Linked DNA regions of Homo sapiens: region 1 is linked to region 2. Evidence: fine-mapped QTL for protein levels in blood plasma. A gene starts in region 2. The other region holds a variant in brackets. All regions are shown on one strand. Distances are between the middles of the regions.

Region 1 (14,950 bases), 150 kb after region 2:
ACATAGACCAATAACAGGGCATCTGGGGATTTTAATCCTGAAAACAGTGAGTCTGATACTGCTTGTGTTTTTCATCAGTGTCCACCCCAAGTGGGTCTTCCTGCTATTCTCTTCACTTAGTTGCCCCTCACTTGCCATCTGAGCAATTGGCAAGGATGTGCCAGGCCTAGGTTAAACTTGGAAACATGCTTGACCATTCTATTCCCTGGTCCTTTAAGATCAGTTTGGCTGCAATTTTGGCTCCTTGGACCCTCAAGCATAGCTGGTAAATCAAGTTAGAGATGTAACTGCCTTAAAACATGCCAGCTTAGGCTGGGCACGGTGGCTCACACCTGTAATCTCAACACTTCAGGAGGCTGAGGCAGGCAGATCACTTGAGGTCAGGAGTTCGAGACCAGCCTGACCAACATGGAGAAATTCTGTCCCTACTGAAAATACAAAATTAGCCGGATGTGGTGGTGCATGCCTGTAATCCCAGCTACTTGGGAGGCTGAGGCAAGAGAATTGCTTGAACCCAGGGAGGCAGAGGTTGCAGTGAGCCGAGATCACACCATTGCACTCCACCTTGGGCAACAAAAGCAAAACTCTGTCTCAAAAAAAAAAAAAAAAAAAGTGCCAGCGTATGAGGTAATTAGATTGGTTCTCTCCAGAGGTAACCTGCCAAGAAGAGATGCTATAGATGTTACTCCTATACTGTAAAACATTGTGAAATCAGATTACTTTAAAATGATGTATTACAAAGTTATGCAAAAAAGCAGTTGTGACTATGGAAGCCCAAGGCTTATATCCCAGCTCTGTCTTACACTAAATATGGGTACAGTGTTTCCACTCTGTCCATAAAATGGGAGCTAATATTCTCCAACCTGTGTGCCTGACATGATGGTTAAAGGGATTAAACAAAACAATAGTTTGTAATTTATTCTGTCAGAGCAAACTGCTGGTAAATAAAAGGGACTAAGTTGACGAAAAATAAATTTTAAAAAACCTAATAAAACAAGTTTGTAATTTATAATTGTATACAAATAAAAGATGTTACAAAAATTGCGCACTTATATGTATGTACCATGACATAACTAATTCGTTGAACAAGTTGTGAGACAATCCTTTCTGAGAAAAGGTAGACCTGTTACATCGTCTGTGGGTTAGGGTCATGTCAGCACGTACCAGGTACATTCTAGCTTTTGTAGAGAAAGTAAAATCTAGTGTTGAGTATGTAGGCACTGAGCCAGGTGGCCTGCTTAACATAAAAGGACTGATTTCAGGGTGGCTGTGGGAGCCTTTCTAATGCTCTAATTCTCTAGCCCCTTGCCTGATCCAGCTGATTCCAAGAGCCAAGATTTTAGTCTTTCTTGGTTGGCTTTTTTAAATGCTTTGGGCTTTCCTTTAATGTATCTTCAAAATCATTCTGGGGCCAAGTTACATCATAAAACATTTTATTACATATAAGGACTGAAACAGGATTTTTCTTAACTGTAACATGGTCCACAAATGTAAATGCAAAACCCCCATGGTGGTTGCAGGAGCAAGTCTAGTTGAGACAGGTCAGGACGAAAGCATAAAAGATGAGTAACTGAATGGCATCCCGGGTCCTGTAGCCACGCCCTCCAGATCGCCGCCGCAAAGGACCTGGAACCTCAGGGGCCCACTGTATGCCATGAAGAAGGCGCAGTCGCTGCCTCAACCAAGCCAGGCTCCGCCGGGGCCGTTCCTATCCTGAGGGTCGGAGGGGGAAGGGACTCAGCCAAAGCCGCGGCCTCCCAGGGCTTGGGCCTCCGCGGCAGCCGGGACGCTGTGGGTTCGCCGTGGATCGCCGCGATGTGGCGTTTCTCCAGGCCCGGGAGTTCCTGGCCCTGCTGGACCAGCTGCAGGAGCTGCGCCAGGGTAACCGAAGCTGAGGCAGAGGCCGGGGCCGAGCATTGGGGACTGCGGGGACGCTCCATGTCGGGTCGCGAATCCTGACCGGCGTGTAATGCAGAGAAGCGAGCACTTCCGGGCCGAATGGGTGCAACCACCATGGGGGAGGTGGGGAAAGGAAAGGGAGGCTGTAGACCGTACCAAGCCGGCCCAGAACTGGGGGAGCACTTGACAACTCTGACCAGCTCCCTGCAGAAACGCTTTAGAAGCGTCCACGATTTAGCCAAACCCAGAGTGCCCAACGGACGCGCCAAAGAAGAAAAACGGACGGACGTGCCAAAACTTGAAGGCTAGCACAGGACAGAACAAGCCTGCGGACGCGCCGCTGCGGGCAAAAAGACCCATACATACATAAGCACCGCGCACATGCCCATTTTCATGCACACCCCCGGGCGCGCGTACAAGGATTCAGATACAACGCATGGCGGGGGATAATCCCCATACTAGGCTCCGCAGCACGGGACAAAGCATAACTGTAGAGTTGTTCCCAGAGGCCTCAGGAGTGACACCGCCACCAAGCCACGCTACTCTCTTAGTTGTTATTATTGTTTTGTGTTGTTTTAGACGGAGTCTCACTCTGTTGCCCAGGCCGGAGTGCAGCGATGCGATCTCAGCGCACTGCAACCTCCGCCTCCTGGTTCAAGCGATCCACAGGGTCCCTAGTGCCTCAGCCTCCCTAGTAGCTGGTGTATGCCACCAAGCCCAGCTAATTTTTGTATTTTTAGTAGAAACAGGGTTTCACCATGTTGGCTAGGCTAGTCTCGAACTCCTGACCTTAAGTGATGCACCCGCCTCAGCTTTCCAAAGTGCGGGGATTACAGGTGTGAGCCACCGCACCCAGCCAGAGCCTCACCACTTTCTTCACACTTCCTGCCATCCTTCAATTCTTGGTGGTCCCAGAGAAGATCGAAGGTGAAAGCAGGTCAGATGTGCTACAGCTGCTCTGACTGCTCGGAAAGTCAGGTTTTTAAATTATCAAAAGTGGCCGGGCACGGTGGCTCACACTTGTAATCCCAGCACTTTGGGAGGTGGAGGCAGGTGGATCTCAAGGTCAGGAGTTTGAGACCAGCCTGACCAACATGGGGCAACCCCCGTCTCTACTAAAAATACAAAAATTAGCTGGGTGTGGTGGCATGCACCTGTAATCCCAGCTACTCAGGAGGCTGAGGCAGGAGAATCGCTTGAACCTGGGAGGCAGAAGTTGCAGTGAGCTGAGATTGCAGCACTGCACTCTACCCTCGGTGACACAGCAAAACTCTGTCTCAAAAAAAAAAAAAAAAAGTATCAAAAGCTAGACTGATCTGGTGAACATCACCTTAATCAAAGAATCAAAGCTTAATGGCCAGGCGTGGTGGCTCACACCTGTAATCCCAGCACTTTGGGAGGCTGAGGTGGGCAGGTCACCTGAGATCAGGAGTTTGAGACCAGCCTGGCCAACATGGCGAAACCCCATCTCTACTAAAAATACAAAAAAATTAGCCAGGCATAGTGGTGCGCACCTGTAATCCCACCTACTTGGGAGGCTGAGGCAGAAGAATTGCTTGAACCTAGGAGGCAGGGAGGTTGCAGTGAGATGAGATCACACCACTGCACTCCAGCCTGGGCAACAGAGTGAGACTCAGTCTCAAAAAAAAAAAAAAAAAAAAAGCTTAATAGGACAAACTGGCCTTGTGTGCCTTCTGATGTGATGCACTGGGAAGGACACACACACGGGGAGTACATTTCTGTAGTAGTCCTCCCCAAAATGCCCAAAAAATGTTCACTCACCACCTAGTCTTGAGGAAATAGAGATCAAAGTGAGAGAGATTCTGCAAAATGATTGGTCTGGACACTTTACAGATGTCGTTGTTATAAAACATTAAGAAAAAGCTAAGAACTACCCCAGATTAAAGGAGACATAAAAAATAAATACAGGCCAGACACAGTGGCTCATGCCTTTAATCCCAGCACTTTGGGAGGCTGAGGTCGGTGGATTGCTTGAACTCAGGAATTCAAGACCAGCCTGGGCAATATAGCAAAACCCCATCTCTACTAAAAAATACAAAAAAAAAAAATTGCTGAACATGGTGGTGGACACCTGTAGTCCCAGCTATTCTGGAGGCAGTGGTCGAAGAATCGCTTGAACCCGGGTAGGTGGAGGTTGCACTGAGCTGTGATTGCCAGCAACTTCCGACTGGGAGACAGAGTGAAACTCTGTCTCCAAAAATAAAATAAAATATAAATAAATAAATAAATTCAATGAGTGATCCTGGATTAGATGCAAGATTGTGTAGGGGAGATCAGCTCTAAAGGACATTTTACCCTTGGGGAAATTTGAATATGATCCATATATTAGATGACAACGATATATCAATGTTAAATTTATCAAGTGTGATAATTGTGGTTATGTGTGGGAATTACCTTGTTCATAGCAAATACATTCTGAAGTATGTAGAGGTGAAGTGTCATGATGACAGAAAGAAAGCAAATGTGGCAAAATTGCTAAGAATTAGTGAATCCACGTGAGGGTTTGAAACTTGTCAAAATAAAAAGTTGGGGTAGGCCCGGTGCAGTGGCTCACGCCTATAATCCCAGCACTTTGGGAGTGGTCAAGGCAGGAGGATCACTTGAACCCAGGAGTTCAAGACTAACCTGGGCAACATAGTGAGACCCCCTCCAAAAACAAAAATTGGCTGGATGTGGTGGCACACACCAGTAGTTCCAGCTACTTGGAAGGCTGAGGCTGGAGTATCACTTGAGCTCAGGAGGTTGAGGCTGCAGTGAGCCAAGATTGTTCCACTGCACTCTAGCCTGAGCAACAGAGACTCTGTTAAAAAAAAAAAAATTGGGGTAGGGGGCACTTGGTAAGAGCTTGAGAAGCCAGTCTGGAGGAAACTGACCATATTGAATGTTGTATAATAAAGAATTTTGAAGGGGTGGCCTGCCCCTCCACACCTGCGGGTATTTCTCGTCAGGTGGGACGAGGGACTAAAAAAAGAAATAAGACACAGAGACAAAGTATAGAGAAAGAACACTGGGCCCAGGAGACCAGCGCTCAGCGTACGGAGGACCTGCACTGGCCCCAGTCTCTGAGTTCCCTCAGCATTTACTGATTATTATTTTCACTGTCTCAGCAAGGGGAATGCAGCAGGAGAACAGGGTGATAGCGGGGAGAAGGTCAGCAAGAAAACATGTGAGCAAAGGAATCTGTGTCACAAATAAGTTCAAGGGAAGGTACTATGCCTGGATGTGCACATAGGCCAGAT[A/T]TATGCTTCTCTCCACCCAAACATCTCAGTGTAGTAAAGAATAACACAGCAGTATTGCCACCAGCATATCTCGCCTCCAGCCACAGGGCGGTTTTCTCCTATCTCAGAATAGAACGAATGTACAATCGGGTATTATACTGAGACATTCCGTTCTCAGGGGCATGCAGGAGACAGAGGCCTTCCTCTTATCTCAACCGCAAGAGGCCTTCCTCTTTTACTAATCCTCCTCAGCACAGACCCTTCACGGGTGTCGGGCTGGGGGATGGTCAGGTCTTTCCCGTCCCACGAGGCCATACCTCAGGCTGTCTCAGTGGGGAGAAACCTTGGACAATACCTGGCTTTCCTGGGCAGAGGTCCCTGTGGCTTTCTGCAGTGCATTGTGCCCCTGGTTAATCGAGAATGGAGAATGGCGATGACTTTTACCAAGCATACTGCCTGTAAACATTTTGTTAACAAGGCACATCCTGCACAGCCCTAGATCCCTTAAACCTTGATTCCATACAACACATATTTCCGTGAGCACAAGGTTGGGGCTAAAGTTACATATTAACAGCATCTCAAGGCAAAACAATTGTTCAGGGTACAGATCAAAATGGAGTTTCTTATGTCTTCCTTTTCTATGTAGACACAGTAACAGTCGGATCTCTCTTTTCCCTACATATCCCCCTTTTTGACAAAACTGCCATCGTCGTTATGGCCCGTTCTTGCTGGTCGCTGTCTCTTCGGAGCTGGTGGATACACCTGTGGACTAACAACAGACAGAACAGGCATACAAGGATTAATATGAAATTTACAATAGTGGAACTTCTGATGGTTTTTAACCAAGTGACAGTGTTAAGATTTGTGAGGCCATCAGTAGCTTTCACGATTGCCTCAGTTCCCAAATTTAAATGGGCTTTCGATGCCTCAAAATTTTGTTATTTTAATTTTGAAATATCTAAAGTAAGATTATCTTCTCTTCCCTGTAGATGGCATCTAACCATGTCCCAGTGATGCTCAGACTCATTATAGGCTTGGGGTGTAATACAAAAATCTGACATATTCCAGTCACACTGTAACTGAAAAAGATATTCCAAGCTCATGAGCCTATTTCCCAGCCAAATGACAGTTTGTCTAAGATCATTAATTTCGTTTGCCAATTTTTGATTTATTTGGGTCTGAGAATTCCACAATTTTGAGGAATTCTTTCGCCAATCATTTACATATTCTGCAGTTTGAACAGAGGAGTGTAAAGCAATTCCAGCAGCTGCAGCAGTAGCTGTGACTGCAATAAGGCCCATAATCACTGCAATCAAAGTAAAAATCTTTTGGATCTAGTTAGAATTCCTTTTAATACTTCCGTTAAAATATGGAAGATGGCGAAGCCTCCCACTGTCGGTCCATGGACACAGGGATCCGCACACCTTCTCTTGCCCTCACTAGCAGAATATGGCGCTGCCAATTAAAAGTCAAATCAATGCAAGTAAACAATCTACAGTTTTCACAGGTTATAGTTTGGGAATCTGGTTTAATAACTATGTTTTCTATAACTAGCATATAAGGGGGTTTTACACAACTTTGTAAAGGAATTGTCAGATTGGAATTTAGGTTGATAGTATAATATGGCTTACGATTTCTTGTTTCTGTAGCTTGATTTCCAGACCAAATTCTAATGTAGTGCGAGGCCACAGTAAGCTTCCATAATTTTGGATGTTTAGGACCAGTAACAGGACTAACTAACTTTGGTCGAGGTGATGAAATTCCCTTTTCACCCCATTTCCAGGGATAGGGTGATTCTAGCCTTCTATAAACCTGGTCCAGCCTTTCAATTAAATCACTATCATAGGCCGGATTAATGGGCCAGATGGATGGGGCCTGTAAACATGAGTGAGTCTGGCCCATACAATTATATATAATATAATTGTATATAATATAATATAATATATAACTATTATATAATATTATAGTAGTTCCAAATTCATTGTTTTGTAATACCACCGCAGTATTAGCCACACATTCTTCCCAAACTAAGGCTTCTGGGCTTTTTGATTCTTTGGGAATTTCCTTGGGGCAAGGCTTCCCCTTAGGCCCAGATTTTAATGATCTTTGATAAGAAGCGTCCTCTAAATTATTTATCTGTGGCCCGAGTGACATTCCACTTACCATGTGATAAGTAAATTTACTGGTGGCACTGACGGTAGGTACTTCTACCAACCAGTTTTGGGTTGTAGGCATTAAACATCCTGGTGCCTTCCCTAGGCAAATAGGAGGATAATGATACCCAGTGGAAACATTTATCATCATTCCTTCTTCTTTAGGTTGGGCAGGGCAACAATCGTCTGTGGGGCCTGGTACCCATGCCCTATTATTAACATATACTTCAACAGGATTATCCATCCATGTGACTGCCCAAATTAAGGGTGGGAAAGGCACATAGGCACAGTAAGTATAATTAGTTGCAGCTGCTCCTGCAGACATGGGGAGACTTACTACCGTTGATATAATAATCAAAGCTGTAAGCAGTATATTCTCTGGAGTTCACATTACCCTTGTGTTCTTTAGGCTTTTTTTAGCTAACTGTGTCAGCTTCTTTAATTGGGCCCAAGTCGGTGGCTCCGCTTCCTTGGTGGATGGCAACTTCATCTGTTCTTCTGATATCACCATTTTATTTACCTGGCGAGTCGATGATGCTCAATTGAGGGTTTTTTGTCTCCGCAGAGGCGCTTTTCTTCGCATCTCCAAGGGGTTCATTGTAGAACTTTAAATTTCTAGTGGGTATCCAACCAGGAAGCTGATTTTCTCCTTGTGAAACACAAGCAAAGCCTCTCTCCCATGTTATCACCTTCCCTATTTCCCATGTCTTATTTTTCTTGTCTTTCCACCAAATCAGTTTTCCTTCATGTGGGCTATTCTTTTTACCAGTAAAATGTTGTTCTGCAGAAGTAGTGGTTTGATTTCTATAAATGTTTAAAAAATTTAAAGTATAGAGTGCTAGATTAAGTTGCATCTGGGGAGTGTTATACTCCTTACTGTCTTTTTTCCTTTTTTTGTTTAACCAATTGAGCTTTGAGTGTTCTATCAGTTTTTTCAATTATGGCCTGTCCTTGGGAATTATAAGGGATTCCTGTTGTATGTGTAATTTTCCACTGATTTAAGAATTTTTGAAATGTTTTACTACAGTATCCTGGCCCATTATCCGTTTTAATTTTTTCTGGAACTCCCATGACAGCAAAACAAGATAATAAATGTCTTTTAACATGGGAAGTATTTTCTCCTGTCTGGCAGTTTGCCCTTACAAAATGTGAATAAGCATCAACTGTCACATGGAGAAATGACAATTTTCCAACTGAAGGTACATGTGTGACATCCATTTGCCATAACGCATTAGGACACAGACCTCTGGGATTAACTCCTGCCTCCTGAGTGGGCAGGTGTGGAATCTGACACTGGGTGTAATGTTGTACAATATTTTTTGCCTGTTTCCATGTGATGTCAAATTTATTTTTTAGTCCTGTTGCATTTACATGAGTCAAGGCATGAAGTTCTTGTGCTTCCAGGAATGCAGATGATACTAGCAAGTCAACTTGTTCATTTGCTTTAGTTAAAGGCTCTGGTAAATTAGTATGTGCTCGAATATGAGTAACATAAAATGGGAAATTTCTTTTTCTTACAGTTTGTTGTAACATATTAAACAGCTGGTTTAACTGATCATCTATACTATATTTGATTAGGGCTGTCTCAACATCCTTTGTAGCCTGTACTACATATGCAGAATCTGATACAATGTTAATAGGCTGATTAAAATCTTGTAACACTGTAATGACAGCAACCAACTCTGCTCTTTGAGCCCAGTGATATTGAGTTTCAATGAGTCGTTCTTTTGGCCTGGTGTAAGCCGCTTTTCCATTGCTGGAACCATCAGTAAACACTGTCAGAGCATTTTCTAAAGGTTTATGTCTAGTAATTTTAGGTAAAATCCAAGTAGTCAATTTTAAAAACTGGAAGATTTTTGTTTTTGGGTAATGATTGTCAATAATTCCCACAAAATCAGCAAGACCAATCTGCCATGCACCAGAATTGATAAAGGCTTGTCTAACCTGTTCCTTGTTTAAAGGAACAATGATTTTATCTGAGTCACTTTCACACAATTTTATTATTCGTAATCTTGCCTGACCAATTAATGTAGCCATTTGATCCAAGTACAATGTAAAAGTCTTAATTGTACTATGAGGAAGGAAGAACCACTCCACAAGATCTGTATTTTGAGCAATAATGCCTGTTGGAGAATGTGCAGTAGCAAAAATCAAAAGTTGGAGTGGGGCTAAGTGATCTATTCTATTTACTTGTGCTGACCGAATTTTTTCTTCAACTAATTCAATTTCTTTAGTTGCTTCTGGAGTTAATGTTCTTTTACTATTCAATTCTGGATCCCCTCTTAAGATAGAGAACAAATTTGACATGGCATAAGTAGAGATGCCTAGAGTTGGCTGAATCCAATTAATATCTCCTAGCAATTTTTGAAAGTCATTTAATGTTTTTAATGTGTCTTTTCTTATTTCTATTTTTTATGGTTTAATTTTCGTTTCCTCCACCTGCATTTCCAAGTAATGGAAAGGAGTAGAGGTTTGAATCTTATCAGATGCTGTCGTCAGTCCTGCGTTTGCAACCTCTGTCTGCAGAAATGTGTAACAGTCAATTAATTTGTCTCTCCTTTCTGTAGCACACAAAATATCATCAACATAATGAATGATATAAGAGTCTGAAAACTGTCTCTAATTGGTTGAAGAGCTTGAGCTACAAAAGTCTGGCAAATAGTTGGACCATTAAGCATTCCCTGAGGCAACACTTTCCACTGAAACCTGGTGGCTGGTTCTTTATTATTTATGGCTGGTATAGTAAAAGCAAATTTTTCAAAATCCTGTTTTGCCAGAGGAACGGTAAAAAAGCAATCCTTCAGATCAATTATAACTAAAGGCCGATCTTTGGGGATCATGACCGGAGAGAGCAACCCAGGTTGGAGAGCCCCCATGGGTTGAATTACAGCATTAACGGCTCTTAAGTCGGTCAGCACGCGCCATCTGCCGGATTTTTTCTGAATTACAAACACAGGAGAATTCCAAGGCGAAAATGAAGGCTCAATATGTCCCTTTTCTAATTGTTCCTTTGCTAATAAGTGTAAAGCCTCCAGCTTTTGTTTTGGTAGCAGCCACTGATTCACCCATACAGGTTTTTTTGTTTTCCAAGTTAATGGAATGGGTTTTGGAGGCTCTACAGTGGCCGCTCTTAAAAAGGATACCCTATTCCTTTTCTTTTTTGAGTTTTTTCAGCCTCAATTGGGACTTTAATGCTGTCTTCATTCTTTCCTAGTCCCTTTTCAGGGAGATATCCCATTTTAGTTATGATTTTTTGACTCGTGGGGCTGTATTGGGGGCTGGGATAGTAATCGCTGCATGCCATTGTTGTAACAAGTCTCGGCCCCATAAATTAATTGGAATAGAAGTGATCATAGGCTGAACTGTACTTTCTTGATCATCAGGTCCTAGACAATGTAAACTCATGGCACTTTGATACACTTCTGAGGCAGTGCCTACGCCGACAAGTCCTGTAACAGGCTTTTGTTTAGGCCAATTTTGGGGCCATTGATTTAAGGCAATGATAGCACCATCACCCAGTATCCACTAATCCTTCAAACTGCTTTCCCTGAATAGTGACTGCACACACGGGTCTATCCTCTGAGACCTGACTAGCCCAATAAGCGGCTTTTCCGGCAGGGTTGGTACTTCCAAACCCTCCTGTTCTTTCCGTTTTGTTTTTCCCAATTTTAATACAAGGCAAAAGCAGTAATTGTGCAATTCTATCACCTGGATTGGCACTCCAGGGAACAGTGGAGCTGATCACTAACTGAATTTCCCCTTTATAATCTGAATCAATTACACCAGTATGAATTTGGACTCCCTTCAAATTTAGACTTGATCTCCCTAAAATAAGGCCTACCGTCCCTTCTGGCAGCGGGCCATATACCCCTGTAGGAATCTTTTGCGGGGGCTCTCCAGGGAGTAAAGAAACCATTTGAGTAGAACACAAATCTACTGCTGCGCTGCCTGCTGTGGCAGGGGACAGCTGTTGTATTGTTGTAATTGGCTGACTCCCTGAAGTGGTGGTATTTCCTGCGGGAGTTTTTGTCCCTGAAAACCCTGAGGAACAAACGGCTGAATCGGAATGCCCCAATTTGTTGCGGGGCCTGAGGCTGGCCCCTCTTCCCATTTCCCCAACAATGGTTGCCCATCTTTATCAAATTTAGAATGACATTGATTAGCCCAATGTTTTCCTTTTCCACATTTTGGACACAGGCCAGGTGGCTCTTTATTTTTTGCCGTTATAGCTTGATTTATTTATATTTATATTTTTCTTTTTTTTGAGACGGAGTCTGGCTCTGTTGCCCAGGCTGGAGTGCAGTGGTGCGATCTCGGCTCACTGCAAGCTCTGCCTCCTGGGTTCATGCCATTCTCCTGCCTCAGCCTCCCGAGTAGCTGGGACTATAGGCACCCGCCACCACGCCTGGCTAATTTTTTGTATTTTTAGTAGAGATGGGGTTTCACCATGTTAGCCAGGATAGTCTCGACCTCCTGACCTTGTGATCTACCAGCCTCGGCCTCCCAAAGTGCTGGGATTACGGGTGTGAGCCACCGTGCCCGGCCAGCTTGATTTATTATATTCTGTTTACTTAAGACTGGGCAACTCCTTTTCGGATGACCGATTTGACCACAATTATAACATTTTTTCCCAAATGTTCTAACTTGTCCTCCTAAAGCGACTCCCGCTATTGCTTCAGCCATTAGCATTGCCTTTATACATAGCTCCTCCAATCCCATCATAAGCCTTCACTTATTCTGTAATTACATCAACTCCTGCTGGAACTTTTCTTTTTAATGGCTTTATGGCCGATTGACATTCTGGATTTGCATTTTGATAGGCCATTAATTCTACAATATCTTTTCGGGCGTTATCATCTGTAACAGATTTTTGAGCAGCATCTTGCAACCTTGCCACAAAGTCTGGATATGGCTCTTTAGAGACTTGTCTAATTGAATTAAAAGAAGGGCAGGTGGTTCCCAGGTCCTGAATTTTTTCCCAGGCCCTGAGGCAAATAGCCCTTAGGTGTTCAATAGCCCTTAGGTGTTCAACAGGTGTTCTGCATTACTGATTGTTGGTTAATGGTGCTCCAATTTGGACCTGTTCCTAGCAATTGGTCTGCATCTATATTAACAGTGGGGTTAGTAACCTGATTTTTTCGTACCTGTTCTTGTACTCCATCGATCCACCACGGTTTAAACTGTAGAAACTGAGAGGGTGAAAGGGAAGATTTAGCCAAAATTTCCCAGTCATAAGGAATAAGTCTATTTCCATGAACAATGGAATCTAATAATGTTCTCACATAAGGGGAGTTGGGTCCATATTAACTCCTTCCTTCATATCTTTTAACATTTTCATGGTGAAAGATTCATATCTAGCTTCAGTTTGGACAGACGCTCCTGCTAGAGTCCCTTTCCCGGCCGGTATCGGTTGTAAAATTACCGGGAACTCCCATGCCTCAAGATCTCCCTGTTTACTGGCTTTATCAATAATTTCATGCAGTGTACTACCTTGTCCACTAGGTGGTGCGGTAGGATTAAACACCACTGCCGTGGGTTGCTGGTATGGTGCCGTGCTATTTGGCACAGGACACACCACTTGAGGTCTGTATTTAACCTCTGGAGGTGGCCGATACTGAAGGTCGGCTGGCGGCCAGTACTGATAAATTACTGGTGGTTGGGTCTTATTTTCTACCAGCTTATATTGTGGATACTGCATCTGAATTGGCATTGCCGGGATAGAGACTCTATCCTTTTCTACTTGATATTCTCTTGGGGTTTGTACTTGTCTAACCTCCCTTTGAGGTTGTAATGTTACAGGTATCTGAACCACGGGAGGAGTTGATGGCCATCGTGGTTTAGGCTCTGATGGCCCCAATAATTCTGGACCTCCTTCCCCCAATTTTGATTATTCATGATATATTACCTCCTTTAATTGATTGTAGTCAACATTTTGCGTTGACCAAGCCATTACAGACTCTGCTACATATTTACAATGTGAACTTTCCATTCCTTTCCTAAACTCTGTCTCTGCCTCTTCTTCACAATCTATTACACAGCTTTCAGGGGCAGCAGAAATGCTATCTTCTTCTGTTTGAAACGGTTCTAAAGTTGCTTTAATAATGGCCCAATCATTCCATACTGTAAGTAGGATGATTTTACCTTCCCTATTTGCTTGTTTTAATTCTTTGCCAATTTTTTTCCCAATCTTTTAGATCTAAAGTTCTCTGTTCTGGAAACCAGGGGCAAAATTGTTCTATTGTTTGAAATAGCGTAATTAGATTTTCTGTAGAAGCCCTAACTCCCCCTCTTCTTAAAAGAATTTTAATGAAGCTGAGATAAGAGGCATATTTACTTTCAGTTTGTCCCATTGTTACCCTGGGTTCCTCCGAGCACACAAGCTTACCGCAAGGCTGACGGTGGACGTACTCGGGAATCTCTCGTCGACTGTCCTCAATGCTCACGTTCTTAATGTACCTTCACCTTAGAGAAAGGCACCCACATTGGCGGCAGATGAAGGGGTGGCCTGCCCCTCCACACCTGTGGGTATCTCTCGTCAGGTGGGACGAGAGACTAAAAAAAGAAATAAGACACAGAGACAAAGTATAGAGAAAGAACAGTGGGGCCCAGGAGACTGGCGCTCAGCATACAGAGGACCTGCACCGGCCCCCGTCTCTGAGTTCCCTCAGTATTTACTGATTATTATTTTCACTATCTCAGCAAGGGGAATGTGGCAGAACAGGGTGATAGCGGGGAGAAGGTTGGCAAGAAAACATGTGAGCAAAGGAATCTGTGTCACAAATAAGTTCAAGGGAAGGTACTATGCCTGGATGTGCACATAGGCCAGACTCATGCTTCTCTCCACCCAAACATCTCAGTGTAGTAAAGAATAACAGAGCAGTATTGCCACCAGCATATCTCACCTCCAGCCACAGGGCGGTTTTCTCCTATCTCAGAATAGAACGAATGTACAATCGGGTTTTATACTGAGACATTCCGTTCCCAGGGGCATGCAGGAGACAGAGGCCTTCCTCTTATTTCAACTGCAAGAGGCCTTCCTCTTTTACTAATCCTCCTCAGCACAGACCCTTCACGGGTGTTGGGCTGGGGGATGGTCAGGTCTTTCCCGTCCCACGAGGCCATACCTCAGGCTGTCTCAGTGGGGAGAAACCTTGGACAATACTGGCTTTCCTGGGCAGGGGTCCCTGTGGCTTTCTGCAGTGCATTGTGCCCCTGGTTAATCGAGAATGGAGAATGGCGATGACTTTTATCAAGCATACTGCCTGTAAACGTTTTGTTAACAAGGCACATCCTGCACAGCCCTAGATCCCTTAAACCTTGATTCCATACAACACATATTTCTGTGAGCACAAGGTTGGGGCTAAAGTTACAGATTAACAGCATCTCCAGGCAAAACAATTGTTCAGGGTACAGATCAAAATGGACTTTCTTATGTCTTCCTTTTCTATGTAGACCCAGTAACAGTCTGATCTCTCTCTCTTTTCCCTACAAGTTTGGCGTAGGCTGGGTATGGTGGCTCACGCCTGTAATCCTAGCACTTTGGGAGGCTGAGGCGGGCAGATCACCTGAGATCAGGAGTTCGAGACCAGGCTGACCAACATGGAGAAACTCCATTTCCACTAAAAATACAAAAATTGGCCGGGCACGGTGGCTCACGCC
Region 2 (14,950 bases):
TCTCAAAAAAAAAATAATTACTTAGAAAAAATGAATCAGAGTTGAGCACAGTGGCTAACTAACTTCTGTAACTCCAGCACCTTTGGAGGCTGGAGTGGAAGGATCACTTGAGCCCAGGAGTTTAAGACCAGCCTGGGCAACGTAGGGAGACACTGTCTCTAAAAAAATTTAAAAATTAGCCAGGCATGGTGGTGCAGGTCTATAGTCCCAGCTACTGGGGAGGCTGAGGTGAAAGGATCATTTACACCTGGGAGATCAAGCCTCCAGTGAGCCAGGATCACACCACTGCACATCAGCCTGGGTGACAAAGCGAGACCCTGTCTGAAAAAATAAAAATAAAATGAATCAGACCTAGTATTTGTTAGCACAACTAGGTGACTATAGTCAAAAATAATTTAATTGTACATTTTAAAATAACTAAAAGAGTATCATTGGATTGTTTGTAACAAAGGATAAATGTTTGAGGGGATGGACACCCCATTTACTCTGATGTGACTATTACTCATTGCATTACTATTACTCATTGTATCAAATAACCCATAAATTTATACACCTACTACTTATCCACAAAAATTAAAAATTTAAAAATTTAAAAATCCTCCTACTTCAGCCCCCTGAGTAGCTGGGACCACAGATATGCACCACCATGCCTGGCTAATTTTTTAATTTTGTGTTAGAGATAGGGTCTCATGTTGCCCAGGCTGGTCTCTAACTCCTGGGCTCAAGTGATCCTCCTACCTCAGTCTCCCAAAGTGCTGGCATTACAGGGGTGAGCTACTGCCCCATCCAGTACTTTTTATTAAGGCCCCTGGGGACATATCCCAGTTTTTTCTTCTTTTTTCTTTTTTCCCTTGAGACAGAGTTTTGCTCTGTCACCCATGCTGCAGTGCAGTGTCACGATCTCAGCTCACTACAACATCTGCCTCCCAGGTTCACATGATTCTGCTGCCTCAGCCTCCTGAGTAGCCAGGATTACAGGCATGCACCACGCCCGGCTAATTTTTGTATTTTTAGTAGAGATGGGGTTTCGCCATGTTGGCCAGGCTGGTCTCGAACTCCTGACCTCAGGTGATCCTCCCACCTCAGCCTCCCAAAATGCTGAGATTACAGGCGTGAGCCACTGCGCCCGGCCCCAGTATCCCAGTCTTACAGCTGTTATTGGACTGAAGAAGTCAGTTGGTTCTTTAACGTCAGTCACAATTGAACCCAAGTCAAGTCTAGCCCATAGTTTCCAGAGATGTAATGTTATAGTTTGGGTTTCCATGGCAGGAAACACATTTCATGCCATGACCATACCAAAATTGAAGATTAAGAGAAACTAAAATCAGCCAGGCGCAGTGGCTCATGCCTGTAATCCCAGCACTTTGGGAGACAGAGGTGGGTGGATCACCTGAGGTCAGGAGTTCGAGACCAGCCCGGACAACATGGTGAAACCCCATCTCTACTAAAAATACAAAAATTAGCTGGGCGTGGGCCAGCCACGGTGGCTCACGCCTGTAATCCCAGCACTTTGGGAGGCCGAGGCGGGCGGATCATGAGGTCAGGAGATCGAGACCATCCTGGCTAACGTAGTGAAACCCCGTCTCTACTAAAAATACAAAAAATTAGCTGGGTGTGGTGGCGGGCGCCTGTAGTCCCAGCTACTCGGGAGGGTGAGGCAGGAGAATGGCGTGAACCCGGGAGGCGGAGCTTGCAGCGAGCCGAGATCGCGCCACTGCACTCCAGTCTGGGCGACAGAGCGAGACTCCGTCTCAAAAAAAAAAAAAAAAAAGAGAAATTAAAATAAAATAAAATACAAATAAATAACAAACATAAACTAAACATGTACCCAGTCAAAAAGTTAAATTGGCTTGTTCTCACTTGTAACCTCAACACTTTGGGAGGCCAAGGTGGGAGGATCCCTTGAGCCTAGGAGTTCAAGACCAGCCTGGGCAACATGGTGACATCCCAGCTCTCCAAAAAAAAGTAAAAAAATTAGCCAAGTGTGGTGGCTACTTAGGATGCTGAGGTAGGATAATTGCTTGAGCCTGGGAGGTCAAGGCTGCAGTGAGCCATAATTGCACCACTGCACTCCAGCCTAGACAACAGAGTGAGACCCTGTTGTAAAAAACAACAACAACAAAAAAGCTAAACTGTCAATGCTCCTTGGGAGAAATTTGTGCATGAACTGGATTTGCTAATGTTTATTAAACTGCAACTTCTATGGAATGTTCTTGGTAATGTCCATAAGCATTCCTCTGCTCAAGGACCTTAAAAGTCATCCAACTTTTTAATCATCTTTCTTGGAAATTACCATCTCTGATGAGATGTGCGTGAATGGCCCTCCCCGGAGAATTTCAGTAACCAAAGCTGGGGAAAAAGCAGTTACTCCTCCCTCCTTCATTTCCCCTCCTCAAAGATTACAGCTAACTTTTATGTAAATCTTTAGTACTTTTTGATTGGCCAGAAGTTTCCCCTGTTCTTTCCCATAGTGGTCGTTCCTTGGTTTCTCTTTAAGCTTTTTCCTTTTTTTTTTTTTTTTTTTGTGAGATAGTGTCTTGCTTTGCCACCCAGGCTGGAGTGCAGTGGCGTGATCTAGGCTTACTGCAATCTCTGCCTCCTGGGTTCAAGTGATTCTCAGGCCTCAGCCTCCCGAGTAGCTGGGATAATAGGTGCACACCACCATGCCCAGCTAATTTTTCTATTTTTACTAGACACGGGGTTTCACCAAGTTGGCCAGGCTGGTCTCGAACTCCTGACCTCAAGTGATCTGCCCACCTCAGCCGCCCAAAGTGTTGAGATTACAGGCGTGAGCCACCGCTCCTGGCCTCCTCATTTTTTTTTTTTTATTGAGACAAGGTCTCACTCTGTCGCCCAAGCTGGAGTGCAGTGGCACAATCACAGTTCACTGTAGCCTTGACCTCTAGGTTCAAGCAATCATCCCGCCTCAGCCTCCTGAGTAGCTGGGACCACAGGCGTGTGCCACCATGCCTAGCTAATTTTTGTATTTTTTGTAGAGACAGAGTCTTCCTATGTTACCCAGGCTGGTCTTGAACCCCTAAGCTCAAGTGATCTTCCCACCAAGGCCTCCCAAAATGCTGAGATTACAGGCATGAACTACCAAGCCTGGCCCATGCCTCATTTTCAAAAGAGACTAAGGAAAATCCCAGATTTCCCAGAGGAAGTGACATTTGTCTTGTATGAAATTTTGGCAAGTGCATGGGGACCCAATCTGTGTGGGCACTGCTCGAGAAAAGGCCAGGAAATACGGCAAAAACTATTTGCACTGAATATTTATTTTTTGAGATGGAGTTTCGCTCTGGCATTCAGGCTGGAGTACAGTGGTACAGTCTCGACTCACCGTACCCTCCTCCTCCCAGGTTCAAGCGATTATCTTGCCTCAGCCTCCTGAGTAGCTGGGATTACAGGCGCCTGCCACCATGCCCGGCTAATTTTTGTATTTTTAGTAGAAACGGGATTTCACCATGTTGGCCAGGCTGGTCTCAAACTCCTGACTTCAGGTGATCCACCTGCCTTGGCCTCCCAAGGCAAATCCCAAGGCAATCCCGAAGTGCTGAGATTACAGGCATGAGCCACAGCGCTGGCCTGCCCTTAGTGTCTTCCATTTCCTCCTCCAGATCCATTCTTCATTTTTCTCCACGCTGTTCTACATCCTGGGAGCTGACTCATATGGACTGCGGCAGCAGACTTCTTTGCCCTGAAATTTCCAGTTGGGCTCTACCAACGGGAGGCACCAATAAAAGAGAATGACATTGTTTAAGTCCCATGGCTCTCTCCCTGCCAGGTCACCATGGATTGGCAGCATCCCTCCACTGAGGACTGAAACTCCTGTCAGGTAGCTCAATAACTGTCTATCTCTCTCTGCATTCAGGTAACATTTTTGTCCCTTCAGCCCTAAGGATGGTAACAGATATTGTACCATCTCTAATTGCTTTTCTTATACTCTGCCCACAGCTTTGTAAATAGCTCCTGTATTAAGCTCTTCTCAAAGTATCCATTTTGAGCAAGCCATCTGTTTCCTGCCAGAGCCCTGACATTGTGTTTGATTAATGGGTATTAGTTCAGACTAGCTGGTGCATGAAATGTGTGTGATGAAACAGTAAAACATCATGTAAGAACAGTAGGCTGAAACAGATGGTGGAGGGGCTTGTCTTCCAGGCCAGGAAGTCTATCAGATAATAAGAATCTCAGAAGGTTTTAGATCAGGAGTGACATACTTTAAGAAAACTAATTTAGTAGCTGTATGCAGAATAGTTCAGAAATTGGAGATGGGGAGATGAGTTAGGAGATGATTACCATTACTAGTAGAGGAAGGTAATATTTTGTAACCATCAAACTGGCAAAGACCCAAAAATTTCTTTTTTTTTTTGAGATGGAGTTTTGCTCTTGTCGCCCAGGCTGGAGTGCAGCGCCACAATCTCAGCACACTGTAACCTCTGCCTCTTGGGCTCAAGATATTCTCCTGCCTCAGTCTCCCAAGTAGCTGAGATTCCATGTGTGTGCCACCATGCCCGGCTAATTTTTGTATTTTTAGTAGTGACGAGGTTTCACCCTGTTGGCCAGGCTGGTCTCGAACTCCTGACCTCAGGTGATCCACCTGCCTTGGCCCCCCAAAGTGCTGGGATTACAGGGATGAGCCACCGCGCCTGGCACCACCCCCTTTCTTTTTTTTCTTTTTTTTTTTTTTATACAGAGTCTTGCTCTGGAAATGCAATGGCACAGTAATGGCTCACTGCTACCTCTTCTTGCCAGGTTCAAAGGATTCTCATGCCTCAGCATCCCGAGTAGCTGGGATTACAAACACGCACCACCACCCAGCACTTGGAAGACCACGGGGGACAGATTGCTTGAGCTCAGGAGTTCGAGACCAGCCTGGGCAACATGATGAAGCCCTCTCTACAAAAAATACACAAATTAGCCGGGGGTGATGGGGTGCACCTGTAGTCCCAGCTACTTGGGAGGCTGAGGTTGGAGGATATCTTGAGCCCAGAAGGTCCTTCACCCAGACCCTGTCTCAAAGAAACAAAGGAAAAAAAAAAAAAAAAGGACCGGGCACAGTGGCTCACGCCTATAATCCCAGGACTTTGGGAGGCTGAGGCAGGTGGATCAGCCGAGGTCAGGAGTTCAAGACCAGTCTTGCCAACATGGTGAAATTCTCTATTAAAAATACAAAAAATTAGCCGAGCATGGTGGCGGGCTCCTGTAATCCCAGCTGCTCGGGAGGTTGAGGCAAGAGAGTCACTTGAACCAGGGACGCTGAGGTTGCACTGAGCTGAGATCACGCCACTGCACTCCAGCCTGGGCAACAAGAGCGAAACTCTGTCTCAAAAAAAAAAAAAAAAAAGAAACACGTAAAGAGTGATGGCTCTCCGAAGGAACTGAATGTCTAGGGACAAAGGAATTACCTATGGTTTTTTGTTTTTGAGACAGTGTCTCACTCTGCCACACAGGCTGGAGTGCAGTGGCGTGATGTCAGCTCACGACAACCTGTCTCCCAGGTTCAAGCAGTTCTCCTGAGTAGCTGGGACTACAGGTGTGAACTATCATGCCCGGCTAATTTTTGTGTTTTTAGTAGAGACGGGGTTTCACCTGGCACCGGGTCTCCAACTCTTGACCTCAAGTGATCTGCCCACCTCAGCCTCCCAAAGTGCTGGGATTGCAGGCGTGAGCCCCCGGGCTCAGCTCTGGAATTTATTAAATATGTATCTATACCCTGACACTGCTGGTTACTGTCTATAATCCGAGTGTTTTGGGAGGCTGAGGCAGGAGAATTGCTTGAGGTCAGGAGTTCGAAACCAGCCTGGGCAACATAAGGAGAGCCCATCTCTTTAAAAACAAAACACACACACACACACACACACCAAACAAACCCATGTATTTACTGCAGACCTACTTTATTATGCACCGTGATGTTTCAAGTATCACAAACCATTACAAAGCAATATAATCACCCTCCTTCCCCCTTACTGCTTCAAACTATTGTGGTAAAAATAAATAAATAAAGCCCTGGCGTGGTGGCTCACGCCTGTAATGCCAGCACTTTGGGAAGCTGAAGCGGGTGGATCACCTGAGGTCAGGAGTTCGAGAGCAGCCCGGACAACATGGCGAAACCCCGTCTCTACTAAAAATACAAGTTCGCGTGGTGGCGCGCGCCTGTAATCCCAGCGCGCCACCACGCTGGGGGACGGAGTAAGACTCAGTCTCAAAGGCATGACGAAAATAGCAAAAATGCTTTAGTGTTATACCTGTTACGAATTTAATGGAAATTACAAGTAGGAGCCCATTACAATCTCTAGCCTTAAAATGCTGAAAACATACACAGTGTGACAATAAGTAAACTTCGAGACCCAATAAGGGGGAAAGTCCAACGTGGAAAGTATTTGGTAGGAGTGAAGAACAGAGTGACAACTGCTTAGTCCCACTGGATATTTCGCTCCTCTTCAGGAAGAATACTCCAGTTTGGGGAGGCCATATCCCGGGCCAGCCAGTTAAAATCGTCAACATCGTTCCAGTTATTTTTGCTCCTATCTAAACCAGAGCTCTCGAAGTCCTTGTCGATCTCCGGGTAGCTCCAGGTGTAAGGGGCGAACTGGATCCCACTGCAGTCCTCCACGATGGCCCTGCTGGTCACCTGCAGGAAGATGCGGGTGTCTTTCGTACTGTGTATGCGGAGCTGTTGGCAGGCCACTGCCAGCACGCAGTCACTGCAGTCCTCCAGGAAAACAGAGGTAGACACCGGACCGCAGAGCAGCTTGCAGCTGTGGGCCTTGGTTAGCCGCAGGGTGTTGGGATTTCCATACAGTCTGACCGTGCAGTTGCTCAGTTCGGTCAAAAGAACGTCGCGCTGGTGCAACTCGCTGGCTCTCTTCTCCAAGACTTGGGACTCCAGGTTGGAGAAACCGCAGACCCAGCTGGGGCCGAGGTCTCCTTCCGCCTTCTTGGGCAGCGGGGAGTCCTGTATGCTTTCAACTGCCGGGGGGATGCCAGGAGCCGCGTCTACTTTGGTAGACGAAGCAGCATCCTTTCCCCGGGTCTTGAAAGCGAAACGCTTCTTGGGCTGCAGCCCCCGGCGCCGCTCGGCCAAGGCCGCCTGCAGCCGCGCCAGCGCCTCTTGTCCCTGCCGCAGGTCGTAAGCGGCTAGGAAAAAAACTGAGTCGTTGATTAGTTTCTGCAGCCCCTGGAGCCGAGAGGCCGCCTCCTCCAGCCGCTCGACCGACTCCGCGCGCTCCAGAAGCTCTTCCACGGCCGCTCGCTCCCGAACAAAGGTGGCGACGAAAAAGTGGCTGTTCTCCTTCTCTACCTCCTGGTTCTGCCGCTTTTGTTTCCGCCTTTCAACTTCCAGCTGCCGTTCTTGTTCGCGTCTCTGAAGCCGCTCAGGCACCAGGCTCAGGTCCCGCTGGGACTCCATGTCTCCGGTCCTGACAGCAGCAGCGGAGCAACTGACGGACTCCATATTGGCTTCAAGCTTCCTCTCTCTTGTCTTCCTTCCTCCGGGCGCGCTGTCCGTGAGGCCTCCCACCAACGCGTCCGGTGATTGGCCTAACATGATGATGTCAGATCCCCGGCCTTATTTTCTTCGCCTATTGGTTCCTCTGCGTCGGAGGGGGCGGGGAGATGGGGCGGGGCCGACTGACTATGGGGGTGGGAAGACAAAGGTTCTTGTGGATGGGTGGGGTGGGAGGCAGGCGGGGGAATCTTTTTTTTCCTCTTAAAGGGGCAGGACTTATATCCGGGATTGTGGGGTGAGTTGCAGCAGCGGCAGCTGCACATGTGGGTTTGTTTATAAGAACAAGGTTAGAAACTCGCAGGCCTCCCCCTCCCCCCAGCTCCTCCCTACTACCCCCTTACAGGCCGGAGATCCGCTACTAGGGGTGTGGGTGGGAGGGATGAGTGCGTGTGGTGGGTTGGGGGGACAGGTAGTGGTGAGAAAGATGGAGCGGGGGGGAATATTGCACCGCCTGGCCCGCGCCGGAGGAAGCAGCAGCTGGAACAGCTGGCTGGGGAGCCGCTTGCATGCCTCCGGTTTTTTCTTTTCCCTTCCACCACCCCTTCCCCCAACCCATTTCTGCCTCCCCGTAGCCCTCATCCTTACCGCCCCCCTCCCCCCTATCCACTGCAGTTCGGCGCGGCCTGGGGGCTCCTGGATCCCCGCAGGCAGTTACTAGGGCAGGAGAAGGCAAGGGGCACTGCGATGGGAGAGACTGGGTTCCTCACTGCAACCTGGTTCGAGGGGCCCTGGGGGAGTCCATAAAAGGATTACTATTTTTTTGGCCAATTGCTGCAGTCGGAGGGGTGGGGGCGGGGGAAGGTGAGATCCACACCCCCTTCCTCTTTCTTCCCTGCCCTCCCCGAGCTCGGTCCCGGCCACTCCCTCCGCAGCTGGGCGTCGCCGGCCGCGCTGGGGTGAGACCCTAGCCCCGGGCTCCGTGGCTCTCTGGGGCGGTCGGTCTTAGGAAAGCGGTGGGAGAAGCGGTACATTATTTCTAGGGGTGGTGGGAGGGATTTGTCACCGGAAGTGAATGGCCTAGCCTAAAGTCGGGACCAACCCGAGGTGTGGGTGGGCAGCCAAGACGGCGCAGTCACTGGCAAAAACCCGAGGCAGCGGGCAGGGCGAGAACCCGAGACGCAGCCGCTGCCCGGGCGCGGCAGCCTCGCATGCTTCGCTCAGATCTGCGGAGCTCCCGAACCTCTTTAACCCTGCCCGCCCTTCCAACCCTAGGTTTCCTCCTTATATCCCCAGTTCCCAGCCTCCATCGTTTAAATTGGGGTATTTAACGACCCAAGAAACTTGAAATTTCACCGATCTACCTGCATTTTGATGCAGAGAAAGATGGGAGGAAACGCGAACCATTGAATTAAATCTGAGTTAAAACTGATCTCCCATTTTCACGCCCCACTCTCTTCCTTTCCTTCCCACTTAAAACAAACAAAACACACATAAATTGCTGGGCCAGAGTATTTCTCCGCTGAGAGCACAGTTCATACCGTGTGGCAGATTCCCCGCGCAGGCGGGGCGCGGGGGCAGGGGAGAGGCTTGTGTGTCCGCGTGCCTGCGTGCACCCGATGGAAAAGGGGGTGCCGAAAAACAATGGTGCTTACTCTTGTGCATAGTCATCGTTTTCACTAGTCTTGTTTTATGGGCAGATTAGGTGAGGCTTCTGTTTTTGCTTTTTTGTTTTATTTTGTTTTTTTTTTTTTTTTTTGAGACGGAGTTATGCTGTTGTTGCCCAGGCTGGAGTGCAATGGCGCGATCTCGGCTCACCGCTATCCGCCTCCCGAGTTCAAGTGATTCTCCTGCCTCAGCCTCCCGAGTAGCTGGGACTACAGGCATGCGCCACCATGTCCGGCTAATTTTGTATTTTTAGTAGAGACGGGGTTTCTCCATGTTGGTCAGGCTCGTCTCGAACTCCCGACCTCAGGTGATGCGCCCGCCTCGGCCTCCCATAGTGCCGGGATTACAGGCATGAGCCACTGTGCCTGGCCCTTTTTTTTTTTTTTTTTTTTTCCAGAAAAGCAGGTTTATTTCACAAAACTGTGGGTCTGAAAGCTGGTGGACAAGAAAGCTAGTTATATTGTCCAAGTCGTGGAGGAATTGCAATAGCTGCTTTATTTTATGAAATGTTGATTTAAGCAAAGAAGCTTTAGAGAAGATTTATTTTTCTAGAAAAAAACAACCTGACCTTTTAAGTTTTTCAGGTTGAACCTGTCTCACTCAAATTAAGAACGTTTGTAGCTAAAGAAGGTTTATTGGACTTGGAGGTTGCAGCTGGAGTGAGATAACATTTCGGTATTAGGCATAGTGAATCTATGGGTGTTGTAAGTGTTGGCTGTATCCCAAGTGGAATTGAATGTTATTAAACCCTTTCAAGAACTTCATTTCTGTCTACCAACAGGTTTTTGCTACAATCCAGTAGACTTGGGAAGTTTCTAAATACTTGAAGTTGGTTAGTTCGAACTTTCAAGAAAAGGAAACAGTTAAAAACAGAGCTTGACAGGTCACCCAGGTGACCCGGTGTGTTAGGGGCAGTTTCAAAGACTGATGTGAGGAGTAGTGGAAAGGGGTCAGTGAGTGATACGGTCATTGTGAAGCATTGGCTGGACAGTTCTTTACAGCCCCCCTGCACAGCTGCAGGCTGTGAGGTATGTGGTCAAGAAATGGAGATAAAGCTGTTTCTGAGTTCAAACACAGTAGGAAGGCTGCGAAATGGCTGGCATTGCCCGGCTGTGTTTGCATCCTCTCTCTGCCATTTGAGGGCAGTGGATTCAGCATGCATCTTTGAAATATATCCCAGCTTGTCAGAGGTAAGTGCCTGTTTTGATGGAAGGAGAGTGGGGAATGCATTACGGGGGAAATGTAGCAAAAGGCAAGCAGCTCTGAGTTCTGCATCCTACTTTCAATGATATCTCAAAGGGCTTGTGAATCAAGGTACTGCTCTCTTGTAGACATCTTGAAAAATGAAAGAATTCTAACGTATTATGGACTTTACCGTTTATTTAACAACAGTTTAGATACTTTATGGTTCTATTTGTTAGATCCCCCTTTTAACTTTTTGAAAATTTCCAACATATATAACATGGAGAGGGTATTAGAATAGTGTTCCAAGGACTCACATACCCATCACCCAGCTTCAACAACTGCCAACTGATGTTAAGTAAATAAGCCAGGAACAGAAAGAAAAATATCACATGTTCTCACTCGTATGTGGGAACTGAAAAAGTTGATCATATGGAGTTGGAGTGTAGAATGATAGTTACCAGAGGCTGGGAAGTGGAGGGAGATGAAGTGAGATTGGTTAAAGGGCACAAAGGCACAAGTTAGATAGAGGGAATAAGTTCTAGTGTCAGATAGCACAGTAGCCTAATTCGAGTTAACAATAATGTATTGTACATTTCAAAATAGCTAGAAGAAAGGATTTGAAATGTTCCCAACACAAAGAAGTGATAAATGTTTGAAGTAATAGATATCCCAATTATTCTAATTTGACCACTACATATTATATGCATGTATCAAAATATCACATGTACCTCATAAATATGTACAATTATTATATATCAATAAAAATAATAATAACTTTTTAAAAAACAGTTACCAACTGAGAATCTTGTTTCCTGTAAAGCCCTAGTCACTTCCCCACCTCTCACCCTGATTATTTTTTGGCCCATCCCTTATATTATATTATTTCATATTTTATTGTCTATAAATATTTCACTATATACCTCTAAAAGATTGGGAGTTCCTTTTTTTTTTTTTTGAGATAGAGTCTCGCTCTGTTGCCCAGGCCAGAGTGCAGTGGCACGATCTCAGCTCTGTGCAACCTCTGCCTCCCAGGTTCAAGTGATTCTCCTGCCTCAGGCTCCCAAGTAGCTAGGATTACAGGTGCCCACCACCACGCCCGGCTAATTTTTTTTAATATATATAGTTTTAGTAGAGGCGGGGTTTCACTATGTTGACCAGGCTGGTCTCGAACTCCTGACCTCATGTTCTGCCCACCTCTGCCTCCCAAGGTTCTGGGATTACAGGTGTGAGCCACCGTGCCTGGGCCCTTTTTTTTTAAATTGAGACAGGGTCTCACTCTGTCACCTAGGCTAAAGTGCAGTGGTGCAATCACAGCTTACTGTAGTCTTGACCTCCCAGGCTGAAGTGATCCTTCCACCTTAGCCTCCTGAGTAGCTGGCACTACAGGTGTGCACCACCACTCCCAGCTAAATTTGGTATTTTTTTTTGCAAAGACAGGGTTTTGCTGTGTTGTCCAGGCTGGTCTTAAACTCTTGGGCTCAAGTGATCTGCCCACCTCGGCCCCTGGAAGTGCTGGGACTACAGGTGTGAGCCCCCACGCCTGGCCACTTCCCTTTTAAGACAGCCACATTGCCGTCACCACACTCCAAAAAAGCATAGAAAATATTTTCTCAATAGCAGATTGCCAGTCTATATTCACATCTGATTATCCCATAATATACGTTTGCTTTTTTCTCAAGACGACGTCTTGCTCTGTCGCCCAGGCTGGAGTGCAATGGCGCGATCTCGGCTTACTGCAACCTCCACCTCCTGGGTTCAAGTGATTCTCATGCCTCAGCCTCCTGAGTAGCTGGGATTACAGGTGCCCACCACCATGCCTGGCTAATTTTTTGTATTTTTAGTACAGATGGGGTTTCACCATGTTGGGCCAGGCTGGTCTTGAACTCCTGACCTGAGATGATCCGCCTGCCTCAGCCTCCCAAAGTGCTGGGATTACAGGCGTGAGCCACCGCGCCCGGCCTTTTTTTTTTTTTTTTTTTTTTTTTTTTTTTAATACTTTAAGTTCTGGGATGCATGTGCAGAATGTGCAGTTTTGTTACATCGGTATACATGTGCCATGGTGGTTTGCTGCACCTATCAACCTGTTATCTAGGTTTTAAGCCCCGTATGCATTAGGTATTTGTCCTAATGCTCCCCCTCCCCTTGCCCAGTTTCCTTTTTTTAAAGTTATTTTATTTGAATAAGGATCCAAACAAGTTCCATACACTGCATTTAGTTATTGTGTCCCTTAAATCACTTTTTTTTTTTTTTAGTTAGACAAACAGCTTTATTTGAAAGATGTGGTCAGCCAAGTCCCCCTCCAACCCCAAGGTCCTGGCAGCATTGGCCTCAGGCGTGGGAGGACCCGTGTCCTGGGTGGAGAGCCTTAAATCACTTTCACTGTGTGGGTTCCTTTTTCTCTAAATTGTTTTGTTGAAGCAGCTTGGTCATTTGTTCAGTAGAGTTTCCCACAGTCTGCATTTTGCTGGTTGCATCTCTATACAGTATTTGTTAAATTTTAAACGTCTGTTGTATTTATTTGATCTTTTAATGTTACAAAGGGAATCTCATGATTGTAGTTACATGCCTCAAGAAGTAAGTAGTGAAAGCATTTAAGCAAAGGAAAACAGTCTTTAGGTATGGTAAACAATAAAGGAATAGGCCCTTCGGTGTTCTCTGGAGTTTGTCAGGGACCCTGCACTGGTGGAAGATACCAGCCACACCCAGGCAAATAAAAGGACCCTTTTTCTTTCTTTTCTTTTTTTTTTTTTTTTTTTTGAGACGGAGTTTTGCCCTTGTTGCCCAGGCTGGAGTGCAGTGGCATGATCTTGGCTCACCGCAACCCCCGCCTCCTGGGTTCAAGCGATTTTCCTGCCTCAGCCTCCCAAGAGGCTGGGATTATAGGCATGCGCCACCATGCCGGGCTAATTTTGTATTTTTAGTAGAGACGGGGTTTCTCCATGTTGGTCAGGCTGGTCTTGAACTCCTGACCTCAGATGATCCGCCCGCCTCAGCTTCCCAAAGTGCTGGGATTACAGGCATGAGTCACCGCGCCCGGCCAAGCCCCTTTTTCTAGTAGTTTGATGCCAGAAAGAAGCATCACCTATTCATCTTTCAGCAAGTCTTGACTATATATGGGATGTAAAGCATTCATTAAAGAGCTGTGCACATCAAAATTATCAAATGTTAGGCAAATCTTCCTACCTTGGCTACTTTCTGGCAGGAAGACAGTGAAAGGTGACAGTTGTGCAGGCAGGTCCTGTTGTTGGGAAGCAGGACAGGAGCAGCCTTTTCCTTCTGCCTTTGCCCCTGGCGCTCTCCTCTGCCTCAACGCCCTTGACCTTCTGAAACTTTTTTCATCATTGTACACTTAACGTCTAGCACATAGGCTGGCACGTGTTTATTTATCTAAACATCTGTTTATTAAGCACTAACTGTGCCCAGCACTGAGCCAGGGAGGCCCTAAGACTGCCAAGGTGGATAAAAACAGACATCGTCCCTGTCCTCCTTAAGAAGGCCTAATTTGGGCAAATAGTCACAAAAACATGTAAAATGTGTTCTTTGCTTGCTGAGACTGGGTCTCTCTCTCACCCAAGCTGGAGTGCAGTGGCATAATTATAGCTCACTGCAGCCTCAAACTCCTGGGCTCAAGCAATTCTCCCATTTCAGCCTCCTGAGTAGCTGGGACTACAGATGCATGCCACCGTGCCCAGCTAATTTTTTTTTTTAGATTGAGTCTCACTGTTTCCCAGGCTGGAGTGCAGTGGCGCCATGTTGACTCACTGCAGCCTCCACCTCCCAGGTTCAAGCAATTATCCTGCCCCAGCCTCCTTAGTAGCTGGGATTACAGGCACACACCACCATGTGTGGCTAATTTTTGTATTTTTAGTAGAAACAGAGTTTTGCCATGTTGGCCAGCTAGTCTCCAACTCCTGACCTTAGGTGATCCACCTGCCTCTGCTTCCCAAAGGGCTGGGATTACAGGTGTGAGCCACAGTGCCCTGCCCCCAGCTGACTTTTTTTTTTTTTTTTTTTTTTTGGTTGGGGGGGTACGGAGTTTTGCTCTGTCACCCAGGCTAGAGTGCAGTGGTGCAATCTCGGCTCACTGCAACCTCCGCCTCCCAAGTTCAAGTGATTCTGCTGCCTCAGCCTGCCGAGTAGCTGGGACGACAGGCACTTGCCACCATGCCTGGCTAATTTTTTGTATTTTTAGTAGAGACTGGTTTCACCATGTTGGCCAGGCTGGTCTCGAACTCCTGACCTCAGGTGATCCATCCACCTCACCCTCCCAAGGTGCTAGGATTACAGGCATGAGCCACCATGCCTGGCCTGATTTTTAAATGTTTTTGTAGAGACAGGGTCTTGCTGTGTTGCCCAGTCTGGTCTTGAACTCTTGGCTTCAAGGGATCCTCCTGCCTCGGCCTTCCAAAGTGCTGGGATTACAGGCATGAGCTACTACACTTGGCCAATCATTGCTATAAAAGAAAGAGTTACAAGGAGCCCACTAGTGGTGGGGGTTGCCTTGTTGGGATGGTCATGGAAAGCTTCAGAGGGGGTTGAGCTGAACGGGAAAGCATGAGTAGGAATTAACAAGAGAGAAGACATAAAGCACGTAAGGGTCCTGGAAAAGCTGGAGGAAATGGTACTTAAAACACAGGTGCAAGGAGTAGTTAT

Alleles and levels. Positions count from the first base shown, and alleles are read on the strand shown. Strength reflects both the effect of a copy and how common the allele is.
With allele T in place of A in region 1, the plasma level of the protein whose gene starts at base 7,483 in region 2 is lower (weak association).

What was found. PIP is the posterior inclusion probability: the model's chance that the variant is causal. The UK Biobank Pharma Proteomics Project read protein levels with antibody pairs (Olink). The fine-mapping took linkage between variants from a reference panel, not from the people measured, so its PIPs are less certain.
Region 1: its variant is fine-mapped to the plasma level of the TBCC protein (UK Biobank, PIP 0.98).

Annotation. Positions count from the first base shown.
Region 1 is chr6:42,888,849-42,903,798 of GRCh38, forward strand. It overlaps RPL7L1 (ribosomal protein L7 like 1), which reads left to right. Exons shown (of 6, transcript NM_001366481.3): 6 at 1-1,052. PEX39 (peroxisomal biogenesis factor 39) reads right to left here and starts at 1,973. Exons shown (of 1, transcript NM_001008739.2): 1 at 1,417-1,973. The coding sequence starts at 1,940. The coding sequence ends at 1,635. RefSeq lists enhancers at 1,465-2,314, 2,375-2,424 and a silencer at 12,681-12,910. The variant A/T (reference allele first, on the strand shown) is at 5,160.
Region 2 is chr6:42,738,621-42,753,570 of GRCh38, forward strand. It overlaps TBCC (tubulin folding cofactor C), which reads right to left and starts at 7,483. Exons shown (of 1, transcript NM_003192.3): 1 at 5,878-7,483. The coding sequence starts at 7,453. The coding sequence ends at 6,413. It also overlaps a transcript of BICRAL not described here and the pseudogene LOC124901226. RefSeq lists enhancers at 6,972-7,131, 7,192-7,271, 7,302-7,511, 7,576-8,539, 8,926-8,975 and a silencer at 8,482-8,541.